Linked DNA regions of Homo sapiens: regions 1 and 2 are each linked to region 3. Evidence: fine-mapped expression QTL. A gene starts in region 3. Each other region holds a variant in brackets. All regions are shown on one strand. Distances are from middle to middle.

Region 1 (10,312 bases), 160 kb before region 3:
ACAGAGATATAGACCAATGGAACAGAACAGAGCCCTCAGAAATAATACCACACATCTACAACTATCTGATCTTTGACAAACCTGACAAAAACAAGAAATGGGGAAAGGATTCCCTATTTAATAAACAGTGCTGGGAAAACTGGCTAGCCATATGTAGAAAGCTGAAAGTGGATCCCTTCCTTACACCTTATACAAAAATTAATTCAAGATGGATTAAAGACTTAAATGTTAGATCTAAAACCATAAAAACCCTAGAAGAAAGCCTAGGCAATACCATTCAGGACATAGGCATGGGCAAGGACTTCATGTCTAAAACACCAAAAGCAATGGCAACAAAAGCCAAAATTGACAAATGGGATCTAATTAAACTAAAGAGCTTCTGCACAGCTAAAGAAACTACCATCAGAGTGAACAGGCAACCTACAGAATGGGAGAAAATTTTTGCAATCTACTCATCTGACAAAGGGCTAATATCCAGAATCTACAAAGAACTCAAACAAATTTACAAGAAAAAAACAAACAACCCCATCAAAAATTGGGCAAAGGATATGAACAGACACTTCTCAAAAGAAGACATTTATGCAGCCAACAGACACATGAAAAAATGTTCATCATCACTGGCCATCAGAGAAATGCAAGTCAAAACCACAATGAGGTATCATCTCACACCAGTTAGAATGGCGATCATTAAAAAGTCAGGAAACAACAGGTGCTGGAGAGGATGTGGAGAAATAGGAACACTTTTACACTGTTGGTGGGACTGTAAACTAGTTCAACCATTGTGGAAGACAGTGTGGTGATTCCTCAGGGATCTAGAACTAGAAATATCATTTGACCCAGCCATCCCATTACTGGGTATATACCCAAAGGATTATAAATCATGCTGCTATAAAGACACATGCACATGTATGTTTACTGCAGCACTATCACAATAGCAAAGACTTGGAACCAACCCAAATGTCCAACAATGATAGACTGGATTAAGAAAATGTGGCACATATACACCATGGAATACTATGCAGCCATGAAAAAGGATGAGTTCATGTCTCTTGTAGGGACATAGATGAAGCTGGAAACCATCATTCTCAGCAAACTATCACAAGGACAAAAAATCAAACACTGCATGTTCTCACTCATAGGTGGGAATTGAACAATGAGAACACTTGGACACAGGAAGGGGAACATCACACACCAGGGCCTGTTGTGGGGTGGGGGGAGGGGGGAGGGATAGCATTAGGAGATATACCTGATGTTAAATGACAAGTTAGTGGGTGCAGCACACCAACATGGCACATATATACATATGTAACAAACCTGCACATTGTGCACATGTAGCCTAGAACTGAAAGTATAATAAATATATATATAAAAGAAGCAGCCAGGCCACATCTTGAATGTTTTATGGCTTGGAAATTTCTTCCACCAGATACCCTAAATAACCACTCTCAAGTTCAAAGTTCCACAGATCCCTAGAGCAGGGGCACAATACAGCCAAGCTCGTTGCTAAAGCATAGCAAAAGTGACCTTTACTCCAGTTCCCAGTAATTTCATCATCTCCATCTGAGACCTCTTAAGCCTGGACTTTGTTGTCCATATCACTATCAGCATTTTGGTCACAACAATTTAACAAGTCTCTAGGAAGTTCCACATTTTCCCTCATCTTTCTATCTTCTTCTGAGCCCTCTAAATTCTTAGAACCTCTGTCTGTTACCCAGTTCCAAAGCCGCTTCCACATTTTCAGGTATCCTTATAGCAATATCCCACTCCTGGTACCAATTCTCACAAAAAATTATATAAAGAAATACCTGAGACTTGGTAATTTATAAGGAAAAGTTAATTAACTTTTTAATTCAATTAAACTTCTTTTCTTTATAAATTACCCAGTTTGCAGGCTGTACAGGAAGTCTGGCAGCATCAGCTTCTGGGGAGGCTTCAGGAAACTTACAATCATGGTGGAAGGCAAAGGGGAAGCTGGTACATCTTGCATGGCTGGAGCAAAAGGAAGAGAGAGGAGGGAGGTGATACATACTTTTAAACAACCAGATCTCATGATAACTCACTCCCTCACTATCACAAGAACGGCACCTAAGGGATGGTGCTAGCCTATTCATGAAAACTTTGACCCCATGATCCAATCACCTCCCACCAGGCCCCACCTCCAACACAGGCGATTACAATTTGACATGAGATTTGGTGAGGACACAGATCCAAACCACATCAGACTGTATCTCCAAGCCAGGGGTTGACAAACTAATCTAACCCACGGTTTATTTTTGCATGGCTCATGAGCTAAGAATGGTTTTTTATCATTTTAAAGTTTAGTTAAAAATTATAAATACCATCGTTGCTAGTCTATATCCCAGCACCAGTCTTAGTACCAATTCTATGTCAGTTGGGATCTAGTCAGAAGGCAGGATCACACAGTAATTTTATCAGGAAAAGCCTGATATAAAGAATTATTGCCTAGAGCTGGGAGCAGTGGCTCAAGCTTGTAATCCCAGCTACTCGGGAAGCTGAGGTGGGAGAATTGCCTAGCCCAGGAGTTCAAAGCTGCAGTGAGCCATGATTGCACCACTACACTCCAGCCTTGGCAACAGAATGTGACGCCCCTCTAAAAAAAAAAGAGAGAGAAGAATGATTGCCTAATGATGGCATTAATTACTAAGGAGTAAAGAGAATGCTAGGCAGACATAGCCAATATGTGGAGTTGAGGCAGAGTACTCAAGGGATAAACAAATTTGAAAGAACTCCCACTCCCGTGCTATGATTCAGACCTCACTGGAGAGGGTGTGGCTGTAGCCACTGAATGGTAAGGAAGTTTCTGAGATTCCACAAGCTGAGGTTGGCAAGCAGGAAACCCACTGTGGTGCCAAACAGGCTTGCCAGCAATCTGCTCTCTGGGGTGCTACCGTACCTTGTGGGGAAATCCACCTCCTCTGCAAGATGGAAATAACAATAGTACCCACAGGGTGGTTGTGAGGGCTGTATGATTCTATGTATGTGAAAGACTAAGAACACGTGATGTTTTTCTAAGTGTATTAAAGTGTAGTTAAGCCGTTGATGAATGTTAGCTATGCTATCACTATTATTATTATTATTACTAGAATAATAATCATCATCATTATCACGAACATCACCATTATTACTGCCATCTCCATGGAAAGAAAAGAGAACTTTCGAGAAGTTGTCTGCCTAGTGCCACTCCCGGGACCCAGCACGCTGGAACCCAGGCCCCAGCCTATCTGGTGTCAGAGACCATGCTCTTTCCACTCATACCAAGCAAGAAGCCTCTACTTCGGTCTCTGTATTCAGTAAATAGGGAAGCTGAGGTTCTGAGACTATAAGGGACGCACCTGGAGCCACACAGTGGGAGAATTCGTTCCAGGCCACCCCCACAGCCTTCTCTGGAAGGAAGCTTGAAGGCAACAGTAATCCTGGTCACCTGTGCGAATGTGAACCCCCTTGACTAATGTCACCAGCAGCTCCTGTCCTTTACTTTCTATCTCCTTGTCCCCCACCTCGTCTCATGTTGATTTAACCTGCAGTTTTATGGTCAATCATCTCATAGTAAATCCATTTTAATCTCCCATCGGGTCACCCAAGCTGTCTTTTTATTAGGAAATAAATAATGCAGCACTTTATGCCACACTGAGGGTTAGCCCTGGGAGCCTGGCAGTGGGAGGAGAGGCTGCACAAGCCTGGAGGAGCCTCGAGACCCCAGAGACAGAGAGAGGTACAAGAATAATTACAAGACGACAGGCGTGTGGGCATGGTTTGTGCAAGACATGAAAGCTGTAATAAAATCGGCTTTGTCTCCAAAGCTCTAGGTGAGATTTTAAATGAAAGGTATCAGCTCGGGGATGCTGGCTGTGCTTAGAGATAAGAGCTCTTAACCTAAGACCCTGCCTGTTGCTTACCTGCCAAGCCACCTGAGCCAGCCTGGCCCTCTCTCAGCCTCAGCATCCCCATCTGACTGACAGGAGTCATTCACCTACCCTGATAATGAGGTCCAGGTCACAAGCTCCACCCAGAGAACCCTGGGTTGATGGCTTCTAAGTAGCCCCAGAGGTCAGCCCTGCCTCTCTCAGAGACCCCTAGGTTAAGGAGCCCTGGGGGTCAGCCCTGCCCCTCTCAGTTTCATCTCTCCTGACTCTCTAAGGAGAAAGGGCACTAGACAGGGAGTCAGGAAACCTGGGGCCTCAGCCTAGCCTGGACAATGATTTGCTGTATAACCTTGGGCAAGGATCTTCCACTCTTGGGGCCTCATCTGTAAAATGGGGGACATGCTGGACACTAATGTTCTTTTCAATGTTCCAGTTTCTGGGGCCTGCCCAGGTTGACTCACTCAGTGGAGGGAAGGTGTGGGGGCTGAAGGGAGCCTCTCTGGCCAGCTGCCCCGCTGCTGCCCGTCT[G/A]TGTCCCTCCACCTCATTTCCTTATCCCTGGGGGTCCCATCTGGCCCTGTCTTCATGCCTGCTCCCCAGTTGCCAATGGAAGCATTTCAGTGCATCTCAGTTGGATGCAGAGAACTGAGTCTCTGCCTCCAGATGGCGATGTCCTCTCCTGCTCCAAGCCCTAAACTTAGATGCATTAAACATGAAAATCAGAAGCTCTAGCTACTTCCCCAAGCTGTCATCCTGCAAACTGTGCCTGGAAACGTGGTGCCAAATAAGAACAATAACAACAACACTGCGACTCACTGAACGCTGACTATCGAGGCACCGGGCACTGCCTTCAGGATTCACACGAATTCATCCATTTACTGCTCACAACAAGCCTACCAGAAAGCAATGATTATCCCCATTTTACAGAGGCAGAAACTGAGGCACAAAGAAGGTCAGAGGACTAATAATAGCCAAGCATGGACAGGACTAGACACTCTGACTCTTGAATCCTGATCATGACCCATAAGACCGGCCTTATTAGCTCCAATTTCCTGGACTTTGTCCCAGAAGACCCCAGAGGCAAGCTCAAAGGGATGCTGGCTCCATAGGAGGGCAAGGACTGGCCCCCATCAGCCCCTTCCCTGAGGGCCCCAGAGCCTCCCAGGGATACTTTCCCTACAGAGAGTGAAGCACACTCAGCCCGGCCTCCAGGAGTCCCCAGTACTGCCCAGAAAGGAGAGGCGGGGGTTGGGCTCACCCCCGGGTGTGCAGGCAGAACTGCATTGGGTGGGGCTGGACCCAGGGCAGCCTGAAGACCCCATGACCCTGAGAAGAAAGTCACGGAGCCTGAATGCTCTTAGTGAAGGGAGCACCGGGGCTTTCTGGGTAAGAAAAAGTTCTGGAGTCTGGTCACCCTTCTGGAGGCTGGAGACAGCTCTGGCTGAGCCCAAGGAAGTCATATATCAACACCTCATCTTGCCCCTCAGAGAGTCACCCCAGTACTGGCCACCACCACATTCAGGAAGTGACCACTGGCAAGGACCAGCTTCCTTATTTGTGCCTGGCTGGTCCCCTAGGACCTTCCCAACATACTTCACAGATTATTATTGTCTTAAAGACCAAAAAAAAAAAAACCAGAGCTGATTTCAGAGCTGTCATGGGACAGTGGGGAAGAGGAAGGGCTAGAGGTCAGGGCAGAGGTCTGGGTGACTTAGTAATGGAATGAACTTGTGGCCTCCAGCAATTCACTTCCCACCTTGGCCTTGGTTTTCTTGGTTGTAAATGGGAGCAATGACCTGACCTTACCGGGCTCAGAGAATTCAATGTGATCACGTTGATGGAGCTTTGACTTTGACACTTAAAACTGTGCGATCACCTCTTTGCTTTTGATGGAACATCTTTTCGTGACCTGGGAGGGAGGGAGGCACCAGCCAGTGAGAAGGAACAAGAAAACACTTAAAGTAAAACATGCAGCATGCCTTAGCTTTGAAAATCCAAACCTTCCTCGCAGGTTCAGGTCCAGGCCAGGACGCTCCCGCTGAGTTCTGGCTCTGCCCCTGCTCCCCACACTCAGGGGCTCCTGCTCTGCTTCTGTGTCTGGGCCAGAGCAAAATAGACACCTGGAGCCCGGCCAGCCCCTGGGTTTCTGCCCAGAGAAGGGCCGGGCACCCAGGCAGTGGGAAGGTGCTAGGAGAGGGGCCAGAAGCCACTGGGGAAGAGTGTGTGTGGTGTGTGTGTGTGTGTGTGTGTGTGTGTGTGTGTGTTAGAGAGAGAGAGAGAGAAAGAAAGGGAGAGAGAGAATGGGTAGGTACAGAAAGAGAGCAACAGAGAAACACACACAAGAGATTGGCCTGGCCTGTCCACCCTTCCGCCTGTCCTTGTCCTCTCCCACTTCCATGTGGCCTTGGGTGACCTCAGAACCTTGGTTTCCTTGGCTGGGAAACAGCATGATGCCCATCTCACAGGGAAGGTGGGAGGCTAGAGATGAGGGGTGTCAAGGGTCTGCTTGGTGCCCAGCCTAAGAGGGCAATTTAGCCTTCCTGCCTCTGTCCACCTGCAAACTTCCCTGACCCTCATCCACCAGCAGAGCTGAGGCCTGTGGTGGGCTCCAAACCAGCCTGCCTCAATCCCCTCCTGGCCCCACTGCCTTTTCGCTGGGGCCCTGGGCTGTGGCTTGGCCCCTGTGACCCGGTGGCTCCTCTGTACCTGGGGTGACCACAGCCCTGTCCCACGCTCGGTGAGTCCCCGCACAGGGGTGCTCAATACAGGGTTCCCACGGGTCCCCATGCTCAGGGATGGGGGGTGGCACCAGCCATGAGGCTATGCCCAGAGGTTCCCAAGGGAGCATCCAGAGGAACCAGGTCCACCGGGCACCTGTGTCACCTCGTCCAGGAAACCAGGACTGCTGTCAGGTGTTTACTGCTTGGTAAACATTTTGATGTTTCATTCATGAAACCTGCCTTTTCTGAGGTCTCCTGCAGTACAGACTGGAGTGAAGAATTTAATGAGAGCTGGGCCTGTGGTCCCTGAACAGCTCCAAGCACATGGCTCCCAGGAGGCCGTGTCTGCACTCAGAGCAGGAGTCCCCATCCCCATCCCACAGGTCACAGAGCAGGAGGGATGTGCTGCACAGGGAGGTGAAGTGGAGTCATCTCAATATATACAAACACACACAGTCGATGGATGGGGATAACAGTTCAGGCTTTTCTTTTTGCTTTTTTTTTTTTTTTTTTTTTGAGATGGAGTCTGGCTCTGTCGTCCAGGCTGGAGTGCAGTGGTGCAATCTCAGCTCACTGCAACCTCTGTCTCCCAGGTTCAAGCGATTCTCCTGTCTCAGCCTCCTGAGTAGCTGGGACTACAGATGCACACCACCACGCCCAGACAATTTTTAGTAGAAATGGGGTTTCACCATATTGGCCAGGCTGGTCTCGAACTCCTGACCTCGATGATCCACCTTCCTCATCCTCCCAAAGTGCCGGGATTATAGGCGTGAGCAACAGCGCCCAGCCTCAGTTCAGGCTTTTCGAAGAACATAGTAGGTGCACAACAAAGATTAAGGAAGGAAGGGAGGAAGGGAGGAAGGGAGAAGGAGGGGAGGAGGGGAGGGAGGGAGGAAGGGAGGAAGGAAGTGGGGAGGGGGGAGGGAGAAGAAAAAAGGGACATTCCATCACAGATATGTCTTGGTTTCCAGAATGACCCTGTGGATTGTGGGGGTGGCTGCTGTTAGCTCTACTTCTAGATGTGGAAGCAAAGGCTCAGAGAGATTAAGTGACCTGCCCAAGGACACACAGCATCAACAGGTACTCCTGACTGCTGGGGAGCGCTGAGTCTGCCTCTCCTTTGACAGACAGTGGAGCTCACACTCAGGGAAGGGAAGTGATGAGCCCAAAGGCACGAGCCAGTGTGATGCCAGAGTTGCCAGGACCTGCACCCAGCACTTCTATGACCCAGGACAGGCTCAGCTCCTGCACCCAAGCTGCCTCTTTCCTCTAGGCTACTCTGTACCCCCTTCCTCCTTCTCCTCCCACCCCAAAGCCTGCAACAGCCTCTGTCCCAGCCCTACCCTGTCCACAGTCTTGGGAGACCAGATGTCTGGCACTTTCCAGGCAAATGGAGATATGAGGTGCCTCCAGCCCTTTATAGACCCCAATAAGATGTTCTCCTTCTATGTCCTGTCCCCATCAAAGGCCAGGGGAACAAGGACACTCAACAAATGTTCCACATCATCCCAGAAGTGGGCCACACAACCCCCTGATGCCAGGACTCCAGACTGACAAGTGCAGTACTGAAATACCTCTTAGGCCACTGACACCAGACCTCACTGCCAGGCCTCTGCTTACATACCTCCTGTGATGGAGAGCTTACTCCCTGCAAGTCACCCACCATATTGAGAGAGCCCTGTTAGAAAGCCTTTCCTTAGCCTTCAGCTGAAATCTGCCTCTGTGACATTTATTCTGTCCTAAATACAATTCCCGGGGCTACACAGGATCACTTTGTCCTTTCTCCCTTTGCCCTAAGGCAGCTCTTTAAGTATTTGAAAGAATGATGCTTGTCACTTACTCATTCATGAAACGTTTACTTGAAGGCAACATCGCAGTTTTTTTCATTCCTCCATCCATTCACCCACCCATCCATTCATTCATTCATTCATTCATTCATTCATTCATTCATTCATCTGACTGAGTGCCAGGCCCTGGGCTGCCTTCTGTGCATACAGCTGTCAACAAGCCACAGTCTCCACCTGCAAAATGCCCCCAGCAGGGTGGGGGAGACCACGAATAAACCCACAATCGCACAAAATATTTAAGTGCTATGATGGGGGGTGCAAATAGTTGGGGGAGCCCGGAGAAGGCCACAGGGGTAGGGAGGCATGAAGGGCAGAGGAAGCAAGGAATGTCTTAGGGTCTGAAGTTGGAGAGAGACTCCTCCACATCCTGGGAACTGAAAACGGGAGGGAGCAGCCTGAAGCTGGGCAGGGGGATGGGGTGGAAGGATGGGTGAAATCAGACTATGCAGGGCCCTGGAGGCCATCCTTCCCACATGACCCTGCAGCTCTGTACCCCACCTGGATCTCCTCTGCATCCTGGACAGCCCAGGAGGCCAGGGCCCTACATGACCTTGGTGTTCAGAGGTAGATGTGAGACCCAAGGGACCTCAGAGCCAGGAGCAAAGTAGAGAAAAGCCTGCAAGGGACTCGGGAGTCTAGGCCAGAGCTGGGGGGCCAGGCCAAGGCAGGAGGACAAAGGGACCTATGTTGAGCCCTGTAGGAGTTCCAGGTCCTGTGCCAGGTTCCCCCATGTGCAGCATCCAATCTGGTCCTCACTACAGTCCTACAGGACACAGCTCATTAATCCACCTGACAGGTGAGCTGAGGGATGCTCCCTCACATTTCATCTCCTGTCATTCCCACAGCAATCCTGTAGGGAGGAGGTCATTCGTTCTCTTCGGGGCTTGGAGACTTTTCCTAGCTCACACAGGACTCCAACCCAAGCTTAGCCTATGTTCAGGACTCCACTGGAGTGGTGGTCAGGGAGGCTGGACTGTAGTGACTGGATAGTCTAGTTCAAGGAAAGGCCCTTGCCTTGGGCTCAGGCTCTGGGGCTGCTCAGCTCTGCCCAGGGCTCGCTTCCTAAAGACCAGGATCACTGGGGCTAAGGGCTCAGGTCTGGGTCAAACAGACCCAGGTTTAAGTCCTGCCACAGTACTCACTGGCTGCTCCCCCACCAGGCCATGGACTCCAGGGATCAGAGGGACAGTAGCTGGGGGCCTAGAGGGGTGGATAGGAGGGTGGACTCTGCTGTCAGATGCAGAGTCCAAGTCTTGGTTCCGACACTGAGCAGCCATGCCCTAGGAATGCCACGTAAGCTCTTGAGCCTCAGTGTCCACATCTGTAAAATGGGGTGATAACAGCCCCTGTCATCAGCTGCTTGTGAGGGGTCAGTAACCATGGGGTGGGTGTAGCAGAGCATTCAGCACTGTAAGTGCCCCACCAATGGCAGACCAGATACTTATCTCCACCTCTTGGTTCCCGGGCAGCCCTGAGAATGTCGTCAGTGGAAGGAGCCCTTGGGTGATGAATGAATCCCTCCCTGCCATATGATCCTCCCTGAGCCTTTGATTCCTTATCTATAAGACAGGGCTGGTGACATCCATGTCACAGAGCTGCGCTGAGGATAAAGCTGAGACCCTGAAAGCCCCACCCCAGTGACTAGCAGCAGACAGGGCCCGGGGATACGGTCCCCTACTTTCCCACCGAGCTTGCCCCTGTCACCACTGCGACGGGCTTCCTTTCCCTGAGTCTCCGTGGGGAGCCTGGGATGCTTCTCCTCTATGCAAGGTTGGAAGGCATTTGGTGCACTGGACGGCTGGTAATCCCATGAGCAGGCATTTGTCACGTGCAGGTGATGAGCAAAGCCATTTACACCGCTATT
Region 2 (10,312 bases), 69 kb before region 3:
AGCCCAGCTGGCCCTTTTACAGACACCACTTTGGAGACAGGCAGGTAGACCAGGAGCAACAGATGGACTGAGCACATCAGGGAGACACAAACACAAAGAGGGGACAAAGGCAGTTGGCCAGATTCCAAGAGATCCAGCAGAATCGGGAGCAGATGAACAAGCAGGGAGCCAGAATATGGCGACGGTGGGGAGACATTCAGGAATCAAGCGGATCAGCAGGGGAGGCAGAAAGGCAAGCTGAGGGCATTCCAGCACGCTGGGAGGCACATGGGAAGGCGCATGTGGGCAGAAGTGCCAGGTACCTTGAGTGGCTATGAAGTGGTTTGACCTGTGGTAACCCTGGAACAGGAGGAGAGGGCACGGTTAGACCCCAGGGAGTAGCCCCTCACTCCCCCACACCTCCTCTACCCTCCCCTCCCAGCAGCAGAACCCCTACCCCACCAGGGAACTGCTCCCTCACATCCCTAGGACCTCCTAAGCAGGATGACTTTGCATCCCCCCAGGTCCCCAAGGAAGTGGAGAAGTACAGCTGGGACACCAGAGTCGTGGGCTTAATCCAACCTGGGCTGTGCAACCCCAGGGAGGACATGACTCCTTTATGTGCCTAGAGGGACCCCCCACCCATAAAGTGGAGAGAGGCATCTGCTTTCAGCCAGGCTGTTGTTCGGAGACAGAGTCCCCAATGGCCCTGCCCTGTTCCCAGGGTTCCAGAAGCTCTAATCAACCCAGATCCCACACGTGGGATAACCAGAGCTTGTCAGTTATCTTAGCCCCCACACTTGGGATAACCAGAATGGACAGTACCCCTCCCCCTTACTCCTCAGTCACTCAGAGCGTGGGGGGCCTAGATGAGGGCTTCAGGATGGAAGTATATGGGCACAGACATTACTCATGGCCCTTGGATAAAATGTTAAAATCTTTAAGATCAATAATAATGACCCTGTTATGGTCACGTACTGTGCTAAGCACTTTACCAGTACCACCTCCCACGAGAGAGAGGCCAAGAGCTACTTCATCCTCCATCCCCAGAGCCCCCAAGCTGAGGAGAGAAACCTGCCCTCCGACAAGCCACCCCAGGGCCACAGCCACCCATGAGGTCCTGCCACAAGGCCTCATCTTTCTGAGCAAAAGAATTCACCAGATACCAAGGGCATCAATGCGGGCAATGCGGAAAGGGGAATTAGTACTGCAGGGCTGGCGCTGAGAAAACTAGCCCAGCCCCCTACCTCAAGTTTACACCCTCAACACAGCTCCCAGCAACTCCTCCGGTCTCGTGAACTTCCCAGGCCTGAGGAGCCCAGGGGCCAGACTGCCAAGGTTCAAATCCCAGCTCTACCTCTCACTAGCTGTGTGCCTTTGAGCAAAAACTCCTTCATTTCTCTATGCCTCCATTTTCATGTCTATAAAATGGAATAATTACAGCATTTACCTCTGAGGGCTGTTGTGAGAAGCAAATAAAGTAGTATGTTAAATGTCTGCCACTGTGTCTAGCACAAAGTCAGTACTTATTCAGTAATAGCCATTATTATTACTACTACTATTTTAAAGCTGAAGCAGTATCCTTGAAGATACAAATGAATCAAGTGTATCAAATGGAAGTCAAGAATTGCTGGGGCAGAAGGCGATTGACTATGGGGTGAAGAATCTGAGTCTTGGAGTTGAATGGACCTGGGTCCCTGCCACAGCTATGCCGAGCAGTAGCTGTGTAACTCTGAGCGCTGAGAAGGTGCTTCTCAGTCTTTCTTGAGACATAAATCTCCCGGGGGATCTTGTTAAAAGGCAGATTCAGATTCAAAGGTCTGGGGTGGGGCCCGGGATTATGCATCACCAGCTCCCAGGTGGTGTCCATATTGCTGGCCTCAAAACATCCTGAGTAGCCAGGCTCTTGGCCTCTCTAAGCCTTTGTTCTCCTCTGCAATATGAGGATAATAGCAAGACAAACACTCAGAGATTCTGCTGGATACCTGCTCACTGTTCCCACGAAAATGACCAAAACATAGTCAAAGTGACTAATGACGAAAAGCCTCCCAGTGACTCTCAGCCCTCAGCACTGGAACTTCTCCACGTCTAGCCCAATTCCCTCCTGCTGTCGCTCCATGCCACTGTCTCCACTGCAGCCTCGACCTCCAGTGCTCAAGCAATCCTCCCACCTCAACCTCCCAAGTAGCTGGGACTACAGGCACAGGCCACTACATCCAACTAATTTTTGTTTGTTGGTTTGTTTGTAGAAATGGGGTCTCACTATGTTACCCAGGCTGGTCTAACTCCTGGGCTCAAGCAATCCTCCCGCCTCAGCCTCCCAAAGTACTGAGATTACAGGTGTGAGCCACTGCACCCAGCCAAGAAATATATTTTTTAAAAGAAAAAGGAGACAAAATGGAAAAAGCACCCACAAAATAGCAAATAATCACCAGTCATTAAATATTATGAAAACAGTATATATGTATTAAAAATCCCCAGCCTAGGCAACATAGTGAGACCCCATCTCTCTCTCTCTTTTTTTTTTTTTTTTTTTTGAGACAGGGACTGGCTCTGTTGGTCAGTCTGGAGTGCAATGGCACGATCTCGACTCACTGCAACTTCTGCCTCCCAGGCTTAAGCAACCCTCCCACTTCAGCCTCCCTAGTAGCTGGGACTACAGGCATGAGCCACCACGCCCAGCTAATTTTTGTATTTTTTGTAGAGGCAATCTCACTATGTTGCCCACGCTGATCTCGAACTCCTGGACTCAAGCAATCTGCCTGCCTTGGCCTCCCAAAGTGCTGAGAAGACCCCATCTCTTAAAAAAAAAAAAAAAAGGAAAAAATTAGCCGGGCATGGCAGCACACGCCTGTAGTCCCAGCTACTCAGGAGGCTGAGGTAGAAGGATTGCTTGTGCATAGGACTTCAAGGCTGCAGTGAGCCATGATCACACCCCTGCACTCCAGAGCAAGAACCTGTCTCAAAAAAAAAGAAAAAAGAAATCAAATTAGAGAATAGCTAGATGAATTAGGGTAGTTTTTTTAATTTTAAAAGGCTAAAAAATGGGCCAGGTGTGGTGGCTCATGCCTGTAATCCCAGCACTTTGGGAGGCCAAGGCAGGTGGATCACCTAAGGTCAGGAGTTTGAGACCAGCCTAACATGGTGAAACCCCATCTCTACTAAAAATACAAAAATTAGCTGGGCGTGGTGGTGCATGCCTGTAATTCCAGCTACTTGGGAGGCTGAGGCAGGAGAATCACTTGAACCCAGGAGGCAGAGGTTGCAGTGAGCCGAGATCGTGCCACTGCGCTCCAGCCTGGGCAACAAGAGCGAAACTCCACCTCAAAAAAAAAAAAAAAAAAAAAAAAAAAAGCATAATATTTAAAAACAGACTATCCAAACTGCTTCCACCAAAAAACATTCAAATTAAGGCTAAATTGAGGGTAAAATGGTCGGGGTTGAGTTTCAGGCAAACTGATCATGAAGGTATTTGAACACTAGGGAAAGTAGTTTTAGGAGGCTGACCTGGGGCTGTCCAAGATCTTGACCCTTAAGCAGCAGAAACAGGGCCCTCCAGGGCAGCTTCCCCTGCACCCTCCAAAGGGTCCTGTAGAAGGTGCAGCTAGGGAGGCTAGGGAGGACTCCTTGGGAATGGCGGAGCCAGGGAAGGAAGGTGACAGACTGTTGTGACCAGTGCAGAATGGGCAGGGGAAGCACCCCCAACACTGCTGCCCCTGCTCAAGGCAGTGGAGGATGGGAGGGAACTGCTTACAATAGGAACACTCTCGAATCTTCAGCCCTGGGCAGCCCCTGGCCAGGCTGCTGAAATGGACGGTTGGTGCTGGGCACATAAGTAGAAAGGAAGGACAGAGACAGAGAGACAGACAGCCAGAGACCGTGAGAGAGTCTGAGATACAGCCAGTCAGACAGACAGGAGGAAGAGGAGGAGGAGGAGAAGGGGAGAGAGATACTTACTTCTCGGTTTATCCGAATCTTAATGATTCCAGTGAGGAAACAGTACAAAGCAAAAGAGACAGATATTAGGCCAGGGGCAGATGGAGGTGGACGGAGCACAGGAGTGGCCAGAATGGGCGATGTGAGCAGGGCAGGCAGAGCGGAGACGGGCAGGCCGGGCTGGGCTGAGCCACAGAGTGGGGAGTGGCATGTCCCTGCCAGGGCCCAAGAGGAGCCAACTGGGACCTTGGCAAGACCAAGGAGAGGCCCGCTGTCACCAAAGCTGCCCAAGTCTTCCAGGCTGGGCCTGGCCCTGACTCCAACCAAGGGACAGGATGAGTGGGGGAGGCAGCAAGGGATTCTGGGAAACATGGCATGGCACATCTGGCCCCAGGAGGAGGAGAAGAAGAGGGAGAGGAGAGGCCACCTCCAGAGACCCTGACTACCTCGGCTCCCAGACCTGTGCCTTGCTCTGCCTGGCCCCCCAGGCCTTTGCTTAGGCAGCTCCTCACCCGGGACACTCTTCCCTCTCCTCTCCAGCCACCCAGAGGCAGCTCAAGCCCTGCTTCCTCCACAAAGCCCGCCACACCAGCCCTGGCTCTGCCACTAGCCTGCTGTGTAACACTCAAGCTGTGTGATCTCTCTCCTGGCCTGCACTTGCTCATCTAATCTGAAGTTATTTTGATTTGTAAACATGTCTATCTGTCTCACCCACTCAAATAGATATGTTCAAGGAAAGCAGAGGCCATGACTGTCTTGTTCACATCTGTATCCCTGGTGCCCAGCACAATGCATGGCACAAAGGAAGTGCTCAAAATATATTTCATACGTGATTAAATGATGCTCTCCCAAACTTGGTTTGCTGTAGGGATTAGGGGCCCTGTCCCGCCTCGCCCCTCTTCCACACCTAGGAAGTAGACTCATCACCTCTCTTTGACACCCAAGCCCAGGCCTCCTGGCTGCCTGCTCTGTCTCTGGCCCCTCCCTCCAATCCATCCAAGTCCTGCTGCTGCTGCAGCAGGGGGCAGGACAGCCTCACAGCAGCAAAGGCTTTAGAGACACAGACAGGCTGAGATTTGCGTCCTTTCTTTACCACTCACTAGCTGTGCAACCTGGGACAAGTCGCTCCACGTCTCTGAGCCCCGGTTTCCTCACCTGTAAAGTGAGGTCATGGTGCTAACTGCCTCAAAGGGTGGGTGGAGGGATTACAGAAAAGGAGATCTTGGGTGTAAAGTGCTTAGCACAGTGCTTGGCACTCAGTACGTGCTGGATAAATGTGCGTTATTATTCTTAAAGGACCACTCTGATCATGGTCAAAACACTTTAACAACTCCCTGGTGCCCCTAGGAAAAAGCCCCCACTCCTGAGCCTGCCATTTGAGGTCTTCACAATCCAGCCCCTGCCTACCTCTTCAGCCTCATGGTGCACGATGAGAATCCCATTCTCCATGCCTCCCGCCTTCCTCACCTCTTGGCCTAGCTGTCTGCCTCTTCCCTTTGCTTTGCTTCTCTAAAGCACCTCATCTCTCAGGCCAACTCCCACCTACAGAAAGCCTTCCAGAAGCTGCTGCTCACTGTCCTCCCTCCTCTGAGCTCCCTGGCACTGACTGCAGAGATAGGGGCACTCCGAACTCAGCCATTTGAACCCCCATTTATCCCGACAGGTTTCTGCCCTGCCTGGATAGTAAGCCTGGAGCGGGCAGGGCCAGGTCTGCAGAAATGACAGGGCAAGGCACTCACATCTATGTAGTTGGCATTAATGTAGTCGGCA[T/C]TGGGGTCTCCCAGCATCGGGTGCAGTTTCACTCGGTGCCGATCATCTGTAAACACAGAGCAGGTGGGCAGGGGCTGAACTGGGGAGCCCAGAGCTAGGCAGTCAGGGAGGGATTCCTGGAGGCTAGGGGATAGGGCACAGGCAGGGCAGCCAGGGAACCTAGAGTCTCAGGGCTTACCAGTAGTCTCTGGGCACCATGGGAGGCAGGACACACCAGGGGGTAGAGCCTGGGCTATGGAGTCAAGGAGGCCTAAGAGTGTATGCTGCTCAGGCAATTACTGGCTCTGAGACCTTAAGCAGGAATCTTAATCTCCCAAGCCTCAGTTTCCTTATTTGTAAAACAGGGATTATAGTATTTCCCGTTTCACAGGGAAATTGAAGGGAATAAATGAAACAAGCACAGGGCGTGACGTGTGGTAGGCCCTCAATAAAAGGTGGCCAATGCTACTATCATCTCTGAGGCTGCCCCAGCTCACCCTGGCTGTGTTCCCCCTCCTGATGCCCTCCCACCCACTGCCCTGGACCCCAGGCCCTTCCCCAGGACTCACAGGCAGGCATTGGCTCCTGCCGGCTGCCCTTGACCTTGTCTTTCTTCTTTGTGGCGTCCCAGCCTTCAAAGAAGCTCTACCAGAAAGAAAAGTGGTGGTCAGTGGGAGAGAGGGACCCTCACTGAGGGCCCCTTCCCCTCAGTGGGGATGATGTAGGCAGGATGGGGGTGGGATGATAAGGGCCAGATTCAAGCTGAACTTGGGCCTGAGATAAAGTCACTGTGTCACTGTGGGTCCTTTTATCAGCCAGGGACCAGGGTCAAAACCAAGGCATGTGGGGGGAAGGGAAATGAGAAAAGAGGAAAAGAGGGCCAGGGTTCAAAGACATTTTGGAATAAGGGTCAGGCTTAGAATAACGGTTAGAAAGAAGGTAAAGGTGAGGTCAGATTTAGATTAGGATAAGGGTGATGTCAGAGTCCAGACAGAGGTGGGATGAGATCCAGAGTTCAAATGGAGCTTAGGATGACAGTCAGGATCAATGTCAGGCTGGGATTAGGTCAAGGTCAGTGTCAGTGGGCAGATTCAGTTTAGGGACAGAATAAGGATCCCGATCACAGTCCACATAGAGATGGAGACGAGATTCAAGGTCAGATTTCAAATCAGGGTTAGCATGAGAGTGAAAAACCAAATCAGTCTAAAATTAGGATGAGGGTCAGAGTCGAGGTCAAAAAGGTTGAGTTGGAAACTGTCAGAGCAGGCGTCCAACCAGGACTAGGCTGAGGGTTGCCAGGGTCAGAGTCCACAGAGAGTAAGAGCCAGGTGAGGCCTCTGCAGGGATCCTGCTGGCCCGGGGCCGGCGTGCACCTCATACTCCTGCTTGAAGCCGTAACCCTCGGCCGTCTTCATCTGGTTGATGTGCTGCAGAAGGTCTGCGACACGCACCGCAGGGTGCAGCTGCCCCGTGTGGTATGGGGAGCCCTTCCGGCCACAGGGACGCCTCGGGGAGCCCCCCAGGAGGCTGCTGGCCTCAGTGACCCCACCGCTGCGCTGGTCTCCTGCAGTCAGAGAAAGACAAAAGGGTTCTTGACACACATGCCCCAGCCTCGGGGGTCCTGGAGAGACTGGGGTCTATGGGGGTGGGGAGGCACAGCCAATGCCAAGCATAGCTGGGTTGTTGGCTGGAGCCAAGCAGCCTAGCCAGGCCCACCCTGTGTGGTCCTGAACACATTCCCTCCCTCCAAATCTCGGTTCCACCTGTAGAATGAGCCGGTCAGATCAGGTGGCCTCCGAGGGCCCTTGCGGCCCTGCCTGGCTAGATTTCATTATCCCCTCACTCTATCCAGCGAGGCTTCACCATGCTACCTGCAGAAGGCAGCACTCCGCAGAGCCCATGACAGCTGCTTCTTCCTCCCCCTCTTCCAGAGAACAACCTGGAACACTGGCAACTCCCAGCAATTACCCCCATTCAAAGACAGGCAAATCAGAAATTAGCAGCTGCTGCCAACCCCTCTGCAGATTAACACCAGGCACCCGAATAGGCGCCTTTCTCCTGCGCAGGCAGTTCCACCGTCAGCCTGTGCGGGGCCGCAGCCAGTGGGGGAGTGGGTGGAGAGGTCCACAGCTCCTCACACACCCTGGGAAACCATCCTCCCCCGAGCCCCCAGGACCACCCCGTCCCCGGCTGTTCTGTTCAGCATTCCCAAGGACGTCCCACTCTGGTCTTGGAGATCAGGTCCTGGGACTGAGAAAATAGCCACACCCGCCTTGGGACACGCACGCCCACTCACTCATTTAATACTTATGCATCGCTTAACAACAGGGATGCATTCCGAAAAATGCATTGTTAGGTGATTTGGTCTTTGTGCGAACACCACAGAGTGTATTTACACAAACTCAGATAGTAGAGCCTACTCCATGGACCTGGGCTGCACGGCATAGCCTATTGCTCCTACGCTACAAACCTGTACTGAATACTGTAGGCAATTATAACACAATGGTAAGTATTTATGTATCTTAACATAGAAAATGCACACTAAAAATACGCTATAAAAATAATAAATGGGCCGGGTGTGGTGGCTCAAACCTGTAATCCCAGAAATTTGGGAGGCCGAGGTGGGTGAATCATGAGGTCAGGAGTTCAAGACCAACCTGGCCAACATGGTGAAACCCCGTCTCTACTAAAAATACAAAAAATTAGCTGGGTATGATGGCACGAGCCTGTAATCCCAGCTACTTGGGAGGCTGAGGCAGGAGAATCACTTGAACCTGGGAGGCAGAGGTTGCAGTGAGCCAAGATCGCGCCACTGCACTCCAGCCCAGGTGACAGTGCGAGACTCTGTCTCAAAAAAAAGAAAAAAAAATCATAATAAATGATACACCTGTATAAGGCATTTACCATGAATGAAGCTGCAGGACTGGAAGCTGTCCTGGGTGAGTCACTGAGTGACTGGTAAGTGAATATGAAGGCCTAGGACATTCCTGTACGCTACTGTGAGCTTTATAAACACTGTATGCTTAGGCTACAATACACTTATTTAAAAATAGTTTTCCTTCTTGAATAATAAATTAACCTTAGCTTACTGAAATGTTTTAATTTGAATTTTTTGACTTTTGTAATGACATGCACATAGTACAGCTATACAAAAATATTTTCTATCTTTATTCTATACTTTTTTCTATTTAAAATTTTTTTTCGTTTTTTAAATTTTTTTTGTTAAAAACTAAGACACACACACACACACACACACACACACACACATACACATTAGCCTAGGCCTGCACAGGGTCAGGATCATCAGTATCGCTGTCTTCCACCTCCACATCTTGTCCCACTGGGAGGTCTTTAGGGGCAATAACACACACGTAGCCGTCATCACCTATGAAAACGTTGCCTTCTAAGACTTGGAACCAACCCAAATGTCCATCAGTGATAGACTGGATTAAGAAAATGTGGCACATACACACTATGGAATACTATGCAGCCATAAAAAAGGATGAGTCCATGTCCTTTGTAGGGACATGGATGAAGCTGGAAACTATCATTCTGAGCAAACTGTTGCAAGGACAGAAAACCAAACATCACATGTTCTCACTCATAGGTGGGAATTGAACAATGAGAACACTTGGACACAGGGCGGGGAACATCACACACCGGGGCCTGTCATGGGATGAGGGGAGGGGGGAAGGATAGCATTAGGAGATATACCTAATGTAAATGACAAGTTAATGGGTGTAGCACACCAACATGGCACATGTATACATATGTAACAAACCTGCACATTGTGCACATGTACCCTAGAACTTAAAGTACAATAAAAAAAGAAAGAAAGAAAATGGTGCCTTCTTCTGGGACACTTCCTGAAGGACCTGCCAGAGGCTGTTTTACAGTTAACTTTTTAAAAAATAAGTACACTCTAAAATAATGATTAATAGTATATTAAATACATAAACCAGTAACACAGTCATCATTAACTATTATGTACTGCACATAATTGTATGTGCTAGACTTTTTTACAACTGACAATGCAGTAGGTTTATTCCAGCTTCACCACAAACAAGTGAATAATGCATTGCACGATGACATTATGATGGCTACAATGTCACTAGGTCATAGGAGTTTTTCAACTCCATTATAATCTTATAGGACCACCATGGTATACGTGGTCCATTGTTGACCAAAACTTCATTATGCAGTGCATGATTGTACGCATGTCCCTCCTCCTGCTCTGGGTGAGGCTGTGAGGGGCTTATTCAACTCCAGCCCTCCCCACATTTTCAAGCCAATCTCTGCCCAGATCTAAGCTGGCAGGGTCCAGTGGGGGACTGTCAGTGGGGCCTAGATAACCTGCCCCCACTCCCTGTGCCTTCACATATGCTGTCCTTCTCCCTCCAAAACTCCTCCTCCCCCTACTTTTCTTGCCTGATGAACTCATACTCATCCTTCAACTCTCAACTGAAATGACCCTCCCGGCAAGAACCCTCTCCGGTGCCTGGCCTAGAATTCCTACTCAGCAACTAACTGGTAGAATGAATGCAGGATCACCAGGAGACCCCCTGATGAGCTCAACTTCCTCAAACTCCAACCAGGGCAGGGAGGCTGCCCCATTGTGCTTGGGTTCCACCTTCCTGTGCCATGGTTT
Region 3 (10,312 bases):
AATACAAAAATTAGCCAGGCATGGTGGCGGGTGCCTGTAATCCCAGCTATTCGGGAGGCTGAGGCAGGAGAATCGCTTGAACCCAGGAGGCAAAGGTTGCAGTGAGCCGAGATCATGCCATTGCACTCCAGCCTGGGTGACAAAGCGAGACTCCATCTGAATAAAAAAGAAGAAAAGGCCGTGCGCTGTGGTTCACGCCTGTAATCTCAGCACTTTGGAAGGCCAAGGCAGGCAGATCACAATGTCAGGAGTTCAAGACCAGCCTGACCAACATGACGAAACCCAGTCTCTACTAAAAATACAAAAATTAGCCAGGCATGGTGGCGTGCGCCTGTAATCCCAGCTACTTAGGAGGCTGAGGCAGGAGAATCACTTGAACCCGGGAGGCGGAGGTTGCAATGAGCCAAGATCACGCCACTGCACTCCAGCCTGGGTGACAGAGTGAGACTCCATCTCAAAAAAAAGAAGAAGAAGAAGAAGAAGAAGAAAAAAAAAAAATAGACACATGGCACCCCACACCCAGACTCACTAACAACTGGATACTTCAATGACTGGGTCCCTGTTGTTTCATACACAGATACCCCCACCCTCAGATACCCGGACACTTGGGGACCCCTACAACCAGACACTCAGGCACCTGGCCAGCCCCATACCTGGACACAACACAGAGACACTCCCCACTTATAAATACCCACTAACCTGAGGACTCCCAGACACATGGATACACCCACCTCCAGCCCCAGGGATGCTGGGATAGCCTCTGTCTGCACACCCTGATCCTCCCACATGCTGGTACTGGGTTGTCCACACCTAGATAGCGAGACACCACCCATCCAAATAGCTCTGCACCCAACTCCAGGAATGTGATACTTGGATAGCCAGACACCCTTAGCACCAGGCTCCCCAGGGGTCAAAGCAGCTGGTTACCTCCCTACTCCAAACTCAGATCCTGCCACACCACACGATAACCAGATGGCTAGACACCCTAACAGGTCACATGTGTCCATGCCCCTAGTTACAATCCCTACACACCCCCCACTCTGACTGCCCAGATGCTAGAGTCACATCTGCACACACCTCAGCCAGCCTCCCCAACCCCATCTGCCAGGGCCACCACGGGATGCAGTTCTCCTCCCTTCCCTCCGGTGCACAAGCGGTGAGAACAGAGGCTGTGACCCCACCCGCCCACCCTAGGATCTAGGACTGAGGACTAAGGGAGGGTCTTCCAGGAAGCTTCCCTCCCTCTCCTAACACAGGGCCCTGCGGGCTCCCTCCCTCCTCCCCAGCCACTCACACAGACCGTTGAGACTCAACGTCTCACCAACTGCCAGGCCCCATCACAAAAGCCTGAGACTGGGGGCTGGAAGGGCCCTGCCAGCTGCTAGGGGTGGGGCCAGAGCCTGGGGGAGGGGCTGGCAGGCAGGAGGCCCGTTCCCTTCAGTCTCTTGCCAGGGACTCAACCTCCCCAACTCAAAGCTCCCAGATGACACTCTCAACATGGCCTTTTCACAACATAACACCATCCCCCACCCTCCAGGAATTTTCCAGATTCCTGGAGGGAAACCTGGTTCTTCAATCTCTACCTTCAGTGGAATCAGTGCACCCCCATCTGGCATCTCCACCTCTGAACCTGGCCCCCTTAAACTTTATTCTTTCAGGCCATATATATTTATTCAGACCCGGTGGGCCAGGCCTTGTACCTGGCACTAAGATTCAGAAGTAAACTAAAAACCCAGTCTCTGTCCTCAGCTCTCAGTCTGGTAAGGGAGACAGCACTAATAAACTGTAATTACAATAATTACAATGCTATGTAAAAATCCAATTGACCCCCACCCCCCGACTTCCTAGGCTAGGACAGGGCATCACCGAGGAAGGCTTCAGGGACTGGATGATGCTTACAGCTGAGAGCCCATCAAGTTGCAGGAGTTCACCAGCAAAAAGCTGGAGTTAGAAAGTTCTGCAGAGAAAGCACGGCTTGCCCAAAGGCCCAGAGAGGAGACAGCAGGCTGTGGGCATTTGGGTCTTTGGTAAGAAGGTCAGGCTGGCCAGATCATAGGATGCAAGGGGCAGTGACACAAAACAAGATGCAGCTGGACAGGCAGGCAGGAGCTAGAGCCAGCAACAGGGCCAAGGGATAAGGACTTCACCCTGAAGGCAATGGGGAGCCTTCAAAGGGTTTTAAACCCTTTGAGTTAAAATGTACTTTACAAAGATCCCTGGCACCATGAGGGAAAGAGGGAAGGAGGAGGCTGGAGTCTTCCTGCAGGTGAAAGATAGCTGAGGACGGACAGAAGGAGACAGATGAAAGAGTCTCTGAGAGGGCAGACAGGACGTTCCAGGATGCAGGAGGGCAACTAGGAAAAGGGGGGAGGGGGAGGAAGGAGGAGCACAAGGTACCCCCTGCAACTCTGGCCAACCCAGTCCTGCATGGAAAGGCCACCCCATATGCCCAGCTGAGCTGATGAAAATCATGGAAGGATGGTGGCCTGTCTCCATCAAGCACGATGCTTGCCCTAGGTTTTTTCTGACACCAGAGCTGGGCAGCAGGCTGTCCAGGAGCTCAGCGTCCCCACCTCGGCCACTGTCACTGCTTCCTGCTAAGTCCCCTCCCCTAGCCCCAGGGAAAAGGGAGGGATGCCCAGACAAGCCTTTATTGCCCAACCTGAAACCACTGGGCAGCCACTCCCTCATTCCTGCCGTCCACAACTCCTGCGACCAAAAGGACAAAATAGCAAGAACACAGCAGAATAAATAACTACCAGGTTTGCAAGGCTGAGAAGGCATCACACACCGCCCCTACCCGGAAGCTCCGGAGCCATTCAGGGAGCTGGGCTGACTCTGTCCAGACTGGGGACAAGGGGTATCACATCTATTCTACTTGGGCTTCTGAGTTCATCTCTAAGAATAACAAAGGGGGCCAGGAACTTTACAAGTGAGGTGATTTGCCAGACATCACATGAATAGCAAGTAGCAGAGGCAGAATTTGACACCTAATACCCCAGCTTTAAATCACAGCCTCTGTCTGGGGCTTTGCAACAACTCTCAAATCCATTTTTTGTTCCCTGGCACTCACAGACAGAGCCTTACTTTACAAGGTACTTGGTATCTACCAAAAGTGCCATACACCATTATCATGATGGCTATGAGGCAGAAGAGGAAACTGAGGCATCAAGAATGGGAGTAACCTGCTCTAGGCCTCACTCCCAAACTTCAGTTCCTGACAGTCCTCCTGCTGGCAGGGCTTGGGGCTTGTGAGTGTTCTTGAAATCAAAGCGATGGTGGTAGGAGCGGGGATGGGGCGCATACAGAACCCCGCGGGTTTGATTTCACGGTGGGAGAGGGAGGCAAAGTTGCCGCAGGACATGGGGGAGAAGTTGGGGAGGATGGGGTGGGAGGTCGCCTTGGGCGTCCTTTCGGGAACGGGGAGGTCAAAGCTAAAGCTGTGCCCTATGGCCCCGGAGCTGCAGGGCGAGGCCCAAGCGCTGGCCAGTGGCCGGCGCGAACGCTGGAGCCACAGGAGTTCCGGCCCGAGACACCGGAGCCAGCAGCAGGGCCGCGAACGCGATGCCGGGGAGGTCAGTTGTCTGCGGCTGGCGACCGTGAGGAAGCGGCTCCGCTCCAGCACGTGTCTCGGCTCGGATCCCGCCCCGGGCGTCTCCCGGCTACCCGGAGCCCGCGGAGCAGCCCCGCCGGTGGCGAGGGCGGGGGAGGTCACCCGGAGCAGGGCCCCGAAACTCCGCGGGAAGGGGCCGCGGTCTAGGATCCCAGGCCTCAGGGTGGGATGTGGAACACGCGCACGCACACACATCCGACACACCGTCCACACTCCGACGAGCACACGGACACACAAACACAGGCTCCGTATACATACATTCAGCTGCGCGCACACACACACGCGCACGCACACCAAAGACACCAGACTCCGAAACACACCCGGAGAACGCGACCACACAGCAGACAAGCGCGGAGCCACACGCTCACACTCACGCTCACACTCAAGCACACACCTGGCGGTCCCGGCCGGCCGGGAGGCCGCACAAAGTTGCAGGCTCCACCAAGGGAGTGTCCCGGGAGGCCCGGGCGTCCCCCGCGCGTCCTGCGCGCCAAGGGAGGGGGCGCCGTCCCCCGGCGGCGAGCCAGGCCCTGCCCGCGCCCGGACGTCGCAGCCCAGCCCGGGGACAGCCCCCGCCCGGCCGCCCGGGGCGCAGCCGCGGCCCGGCCACCGCAGGAGCGCCCGCCGGTCCGGCCCTCCCCTGCCCGCCCGCCGGCCCCTCGCTGGGGCCCGCTGGCCCGGGCGCCCCGCAGCCCCGGCGCCGCCTCGGATCAGCCGCCCGCCAGCGCCGCGCGGAACTTGCGAAACAACAAACAGTCCGACATGCCCGAGGCGGCGGCCGCGGGGCCCGGTCCTCCCCTGAGCCTCGGGCCCTGCCCGACCCGGGCAGCCCAGGGGGCGCCGCCGCGACAACTTGTTCCGGCCCAGCGCGCCACACACGCGCACACGCACACGCGCGCACACACGTCCTGCCACCGCCCCCTCGGGCGGCCCCGGGACCAGGGCACACTCGCAGCCGCGGCCCAGGCGCGCTCCACACTCGCAACATTCCTGGACGCGCAGCCAGCACACACGGACACATTCGCACACACTCACATCCGTTCCAGACTCGCTCCCACACACGCATTCCCGGCACACTTGGCATTCACTCGGACCCACGCGGCCCCCGGCAGCACACACCACATACCCTAGACACTCCCCACACGTACACAGCGCACGGACACACACGTTCCGGACCCGTTCCCACGCCTTCACACATGTACACGGATCTCAAAAGCACACACGCCACACACGCGTTCCCGGATCCACACTCAGGCGGGATCCAGAGAGCACCCTTGGCCACAGGCATAACACAAACACACAACCCACTCGCAGACACAAAACAAACAGCACTCCCGGCCAGGCATACAAAATGCAAACAAATGCAACACATTAGCAGATACAACTCCCGCAACACAACCAAACTCAGATGCACACACAACCCACTTGGCCACACAAACACTACACACTGGCAGACCCACAAGACACTCAGCGCACACCCAATGCCTCGATGCACACAACATTCACCCCCAACATACTCGCCGACACACATCACCTTTTCTTGCGCACAGAACTCACGGACACACAACATTCGCAGTCACGCAACACCCCGGGCACACAATCGCCCATCCTACGCTCAGACACACACAGGGAGCACGCTCGTAACGCCCGGTCACTCAACACTCACACTTTCTTCCGAGCTACGCCACGGGCCCCGAGGCTCGGCGGGGCAGGCTCGGTCCGGCCGCCGCGCGCTTACCTGCCGGAGTCTCGGTCTCCGGCGCGCAGAGCTGGAAGGTGAGTGCCAGCACGAGCGCCTGGGCACGGGCCATGGTTGGAGCGTCGCCGCCCGTCCCGGGGCCCGGCGCGGGGGACGCCGCCCCCGGAGCCCGAGCCCAGCCCGAGGCGAGCCGGAGCCCGAGCCGGAGCGGAGCGGCGCGGCGCGGAGCGGGACTGGCGCCGAGTCCAGAGCGCGAGCCGGAGCAAGCGGGGCGCTGACGTCAGGCCCGGCCGCGGGTTCGGCGGTCTCGCGGCGCTCCCTGCTGGCCACGGCGGGTGCTGCAGCGGGTCCGGCCGCCCGCTAGCCCTGGCGCGCCCCTCCCCCGCTCCCGCATCCTCCCCGCCATGAGGCCCCGCGGCTGGGTCTGGACGCCCACGGACGTCTCCACGGACCGGGCACCAACACTGCCAGGCGAGCACGCTCATGGCCCACGCCTAGCTCCCGTACAGCGCTCTCAGGGACGGTGACCCAGGGACACCCGGCCTCTGTCCCATCCGATGCCTGAATCCCTTGTACCTTGGCGCCTTCAAATGCGTGTTCTACATACCTCCAGGAACAGGGCGCTCATCACCTGGCCAAGAGCGGTTGTTGGGGCTTTGGAAACGCCGGCTTTTAGAAAGTTTTTCATTTCATGACGTGCAAGTCTACCTCCCTCACTAGCCCTCACTGGTCCTACTCTACCTTCTGGCTACACAGGTTAAATGTATTTGGGCCTCTACCCAGAACGAGCCCTCGCACTATGATCTGCAAACTCGTTGCTCATTACTATGTAAGACCAGGTACCTTCTATGTGTTTAACCCACATGGACTCATTTAATCATCATATATTAGGTATGCAATAATTATACTGCATAAATACTGTTATGCAACAGTATTTGACAGCACCGAGATTTGAATCAAAGTTGTTTGGTTTGAATTGAATAGGGGCTGAGACCTTCCTCCCATCTGGACACCTATTCATTCAACAAATATTTATTGGGGTCTATTCATTTATTCAACAATTACTATAGGCCAGGGTAGAGATATAAAACAGACAAAAATTCCCTACTCTCATGGACCTTACATTCCAGTGGGAAGACAAGAACAGTAAACAACCAAAAAAACAAAAACAAAAAAGCAAACCCTCTGGTGTACGTCCTTTATCACTGTCTCATACACCAGGAAATTTGGGGGTGGTGGGGGGACAGGGAAGGGAAGGGGAATTGTTGCAATTTCAAATAGAGTGCGGGCTATATGATGAGTTCATTATCTGTCTCCACCTCTAGAAATGAGCTCCCTTGGGAAAAGACTCATCTTGTATTTCCGTGCCCAGTATATGGCATGTTTTTATTATTTTATTTTATTTTATTTTATTTCAAGATGGAGTTTCACTCTTGTTGCCCAGGCTGGAGTGCAATGGCGCAGTCTTGGCTCATTGCAACCTCTGCCTCCCAGGCTCCAACAATTCTCCTGGCTCAGCCTCCCAAGTAACTGGGATTACAGGTGCCCACCACCACGCCCGGCTAATTTTCGTATTTTTAGTAGAGACAGGGTTTCACCATGTTGGCCAGGCTGGTCTGGAACTCCTGACCTCAGGTGATCCACCTGCCTCAGTCTCCCAATGTGCAGGGATTACAGGCGTGAGCCACCGCGCCCGGCCTCTGGCACGTAATTGATGCTCAATAAATACTGACTGGATGGAATGAATGAAAGGGAAATGGTCCTAGCCTTCATGAATCTTACATTCTATTAGGAGAGCCCAACAGCAAACATGTACATAAATATATCATTACCATCTAAGATATGCAAGCTAAAGGAAACGAGGGAGTATAATGATAAAGAACATAGGGAAGGGGCATCTCCTTTAGATAAGTGGTCCAAGAGGGCTTTGCTATAGAAGTGACATGGTGACATTTGAACTGAGACCTGAAGTATGAGAAGGAGCCAACCTCATGCAAATCAGTGGAGAGGAACATTGCAGTCAGAGGGGACAGCCTGTGCAAAGGCAGGAGCTGGTGGGTACAAGCAGCTGCAAGGAAGCCGGGCAGCTGGCATGGAGTGAGTCAGGGGCAGAAGGGAGCCAGGTGCAGCTAGACAAGTCAGCAGGGTCTGTAGGTCAGGCAAGAAACTATGAGCAAGGAAGGGGCTTGAGGTTCAACCCTAAGAGTAATTAATGGGAGGCCACTGAAGTGGAGTAATTAAGCAGAGGAGTAATAAGGAGTAATAAGTTCTGATCTCTGGGTTTTTTTTTTTTTGTTTTTTTTTTTTTACAGCTCCAGCTATAAAGACTGCTGAAGTAGGGAAAGCCATGGGCAGATGGGTCTGACCACTGGGCAGTGACACTGAACAAAGCGTAGGAGTTCAAGGTATATGTAGGCCCTCCCTGTGCCCTGCCCCTCCTAGCTGGCTTCATGCTGAGATGGACACACCTTGAAGCTGCCCTGGGGCTGGAGGAGGTATCGCTGGGTTGAGAGTTCCTGGGCTCTTGGTCTCCTCTCTTGTGAGAGCTGATGAGCTCCACACTGAGTTAGGAAAGGGACCAAAAGACACAGCAGGCAAGAATTAGACACAGATAATTAAATAGGGAGAGGGAGGCAGAAGCAAGAAGAAACCAAGGGGAAACCTTAGGGAAGAAACTAAGATACAGAGACGCTGGAGCAGAGAGGAGCCAGAGAGGCCCACCCAGAAAAGGAAACTCAAGGAGAGAAAACCAGTGAACAGAAGAAACAACCAAGGGTGCTGTTTGCAGAGGGCTCTTGAGAGAGCCTCAAAATAGGAGTTTTACCAGTGATCCCATTTTACGGGTGTGGAAACTGAGGTTCAGAGAGCATATGACACTTGCCTAAGGTGACACAGCTAGTAAATAGACGGCGGGCCCTAGATTTGAACCCAGATCTGACTGATTCCACATCCCTTTGCCCTTTGTGCAGGGGAAGATGGCAGAGACTATAATGGAGGGAGAAAGAGAACACAAGCAACAGGTAGACAGATGAGAAGAGGACTTTCTGCTTTACTTTTAAAAGACCACAAACTTCAGCCGGGCACAGTGGTTCACACCTGTAATCCCAGCATTTTGGGAGGCAGAGGCGAGGTCAGGAGTTTGAGACCAGCCTGACTAACATGGTGAAACCCTGTCTCTACTAAAAAAAAAAAAAATACAAAAATTAGCCAGACGTAGTTGCGGGCACCTGTAATCCCAGCTACTCAGGAGGCTGAGGCAGGAGAATTGCTTGAACCTGGGAGGCGGAGGTTGCAGTGAGCCAAGATCGCGCCATTGCACTCCAGCCTGGGCAACGAGCAAAACTCTGTCTCAAAAAAAAAAAAAAAAAAAAAAAAAGACCACAGACTTCTATAATCCTTGAGAGAAGAAGGAAGAAGGAAATTCCTGGCCTGGAGTGACCAGCCCAAATCTAGGGAAAAGGAGATGGCACCACAGACCGTTCTAGGCCATGAGGAAATTCAATTACCTGCAACTCATGGAATATTTATGACACCTACCCTGTGCCAGGCTCATATCGGGTGCTGGTGTTATGGAGATAAACCAAACATGGCTCCAGTCTTGCCTGGAGGGGAATAAATAAGAGACGATGTACTAAAGGCCATAACACAGCTCCAGGGAAAACACAAAGGCAGCAGCAGATGACCTAGGGAGTTTTGAAACATCAAAGAAATGACATCTGAACCTGGAGTTTCCGAGGCAGGGAACAGCATTTCAGGCAGAAGGAGTGGCCTGAATAAAGGCACAAGACACACTGGGGAAGACGGGTATCAGATGCAGCTGGATCACAGGCTATGCACGGTCCAACAGGAGAAGATGAAGCTGGAAATGCAGTGTGGGAGTCAGAGTGCAAAGAATCTTGAATGCAAGTCCAGGAAATTGGACTTGAACCCCTCAGTCAGTAGTTCTCAAACTATGCCCCTGCAAGAACCCAGATGGCCTAGACTAAAAGTGAGGGCTATTGGGATGCACAGGAGGCTAAAGTCCAGCCCCAAGGAGGAGGACTTGCTGGATGATTCTTCAGGCTTCCTGACTGGGCTCCCCAGAAATTCAGAGGAGCCAATTTGGTGAAGAAGAGAATGTCGACATCTCAATGTCACCTAGGGAGTCTTACAACAGAAGGTTACGTTGTACTTCCCAGTTCAAGTAAGCCTATGTGTCACTGGGGAAAAGGGTAAGCAGGACTGGTCATCGTGTGTGTGCTGGCACATAAATGTGGGGCCAAGCCTTTCCCCCACCATGGGACACCAACTTTCTCTAATAATAAAAACAAGTACAGACATTTAGTGAGCACATACTATAAGCCAGACCCTAGTCTGAGGGTTTTATGTGTGATATTTCTCATTTAATCACAATAACCCCCGATAATATTTATCAAATGCTTCCATGTGCCAAGCATTGTACTAAATGCTTCAAGTGGATAATATCTCACTTGACCCTCACAACAATCTTGAAACAGATAACTAGTATTCCTTCCATTTTAAGAGTAAGAAAGTGAAGACACAGAGAGGCCTGGTGACTTGTCCGAAATCAAATGGCTGGAAAATGGCAGAGCTAGGACATAAAGCCAGGTTTGTCCAAATCTAGCTCACAGTACTTTGCTGTGCTCTCTTCCTCAGAGGAAAGGCTTGGAGATGGCAAGCTTCAAGTCAATAAAATCCAGGAAAGGAACTCTTCCTTATCCTTCAAAGCCCTGGCTCAGTATCTTAAAACCTGTTTCCTGGGACACCTGCATCAGAATATTCTTGGGAGCTTGTAAGGATGTAGATTCCTGGAACCCCCATCCGCAAGATTCTAATTCAGTAGGTCTAAGATGGGACCTCGGATTATTTTTATGCACACAGAAGATTTTGAATCACAGGGCTGGCTCTAACAGCACCTCCTCCAAGAGCCCCCACCCCATCCCACCCCATCCCAGAGCACTTCTCTTCAGACTACAGCATTGCACTCTGGCACGAGCCAC

Which allele goes with the higher level. Positions count from the first base shown, and alleles are read on the strand shown. Sizes are in standard deviations (SD) of each study's normalised expression. Not every link is listed here.
For the expression in cerebellar hemisphere of the gene that starts at base 5,547 in region 3, allele A in region 1 goes with a lower level than allele G (large effect, 0.82 SD a copy in GTEx).

The links.
Region 1: its variant is fine-mapped to the expression of PTPRU in cerebellar hemisphere (GTEx, PIP 0.98).
Region 2: its variant is fine-mapped to the expression of PTPRU in tibial nerve (GTEx, PIP 0.96).

The regions. Positions count from the first base shown.
Region 1 is chr1:29,391,105-29,401,416 of GRCh38, reverse strand. No RefSeq gene overlaps it. Among named protein-coding and RNA genes, the nearest start is that of LINC01756, 46 kb to the right of the region's middle. RefSeq lists a silencer at 6,754-6,954. The variant G/A (reference allele first, on the strand shown) is at 4,413.
Region 2 is chr1:29,300,771-29,311,082 of GRCh38, reverse strand. PTPRU (protein tyrosine phosphatase receptor type U) reads right to left here. Exons shown (of 30, transcript NM_133178.4): 16 at 7,038-7,228; 17 at 6,234-6,309; 18 at 5,655-5,731; 19 at 303-339. Among named protein-coding and RNA genes, the nearest start is that of LINC01756, 44 kb to the left of the region's middle. RefSeq lists an enhancer at 1-389. The variant T/C (reference allele first, on the strand shown) is at 5,686.
Region 3 is chr1:29,231,757-29,242,068 of GRCh38, reverse strand. It overlaps PTPRU (protein tyrosine phosphatase receptor type U), which reads right to left and starts at 5,547. Exons shown (of 30, transcript NM_133178.4): 1 at 5,352-5,547. The coding sequence starts at 5,424. RefSeq lists a silencer at 5,425-5,744.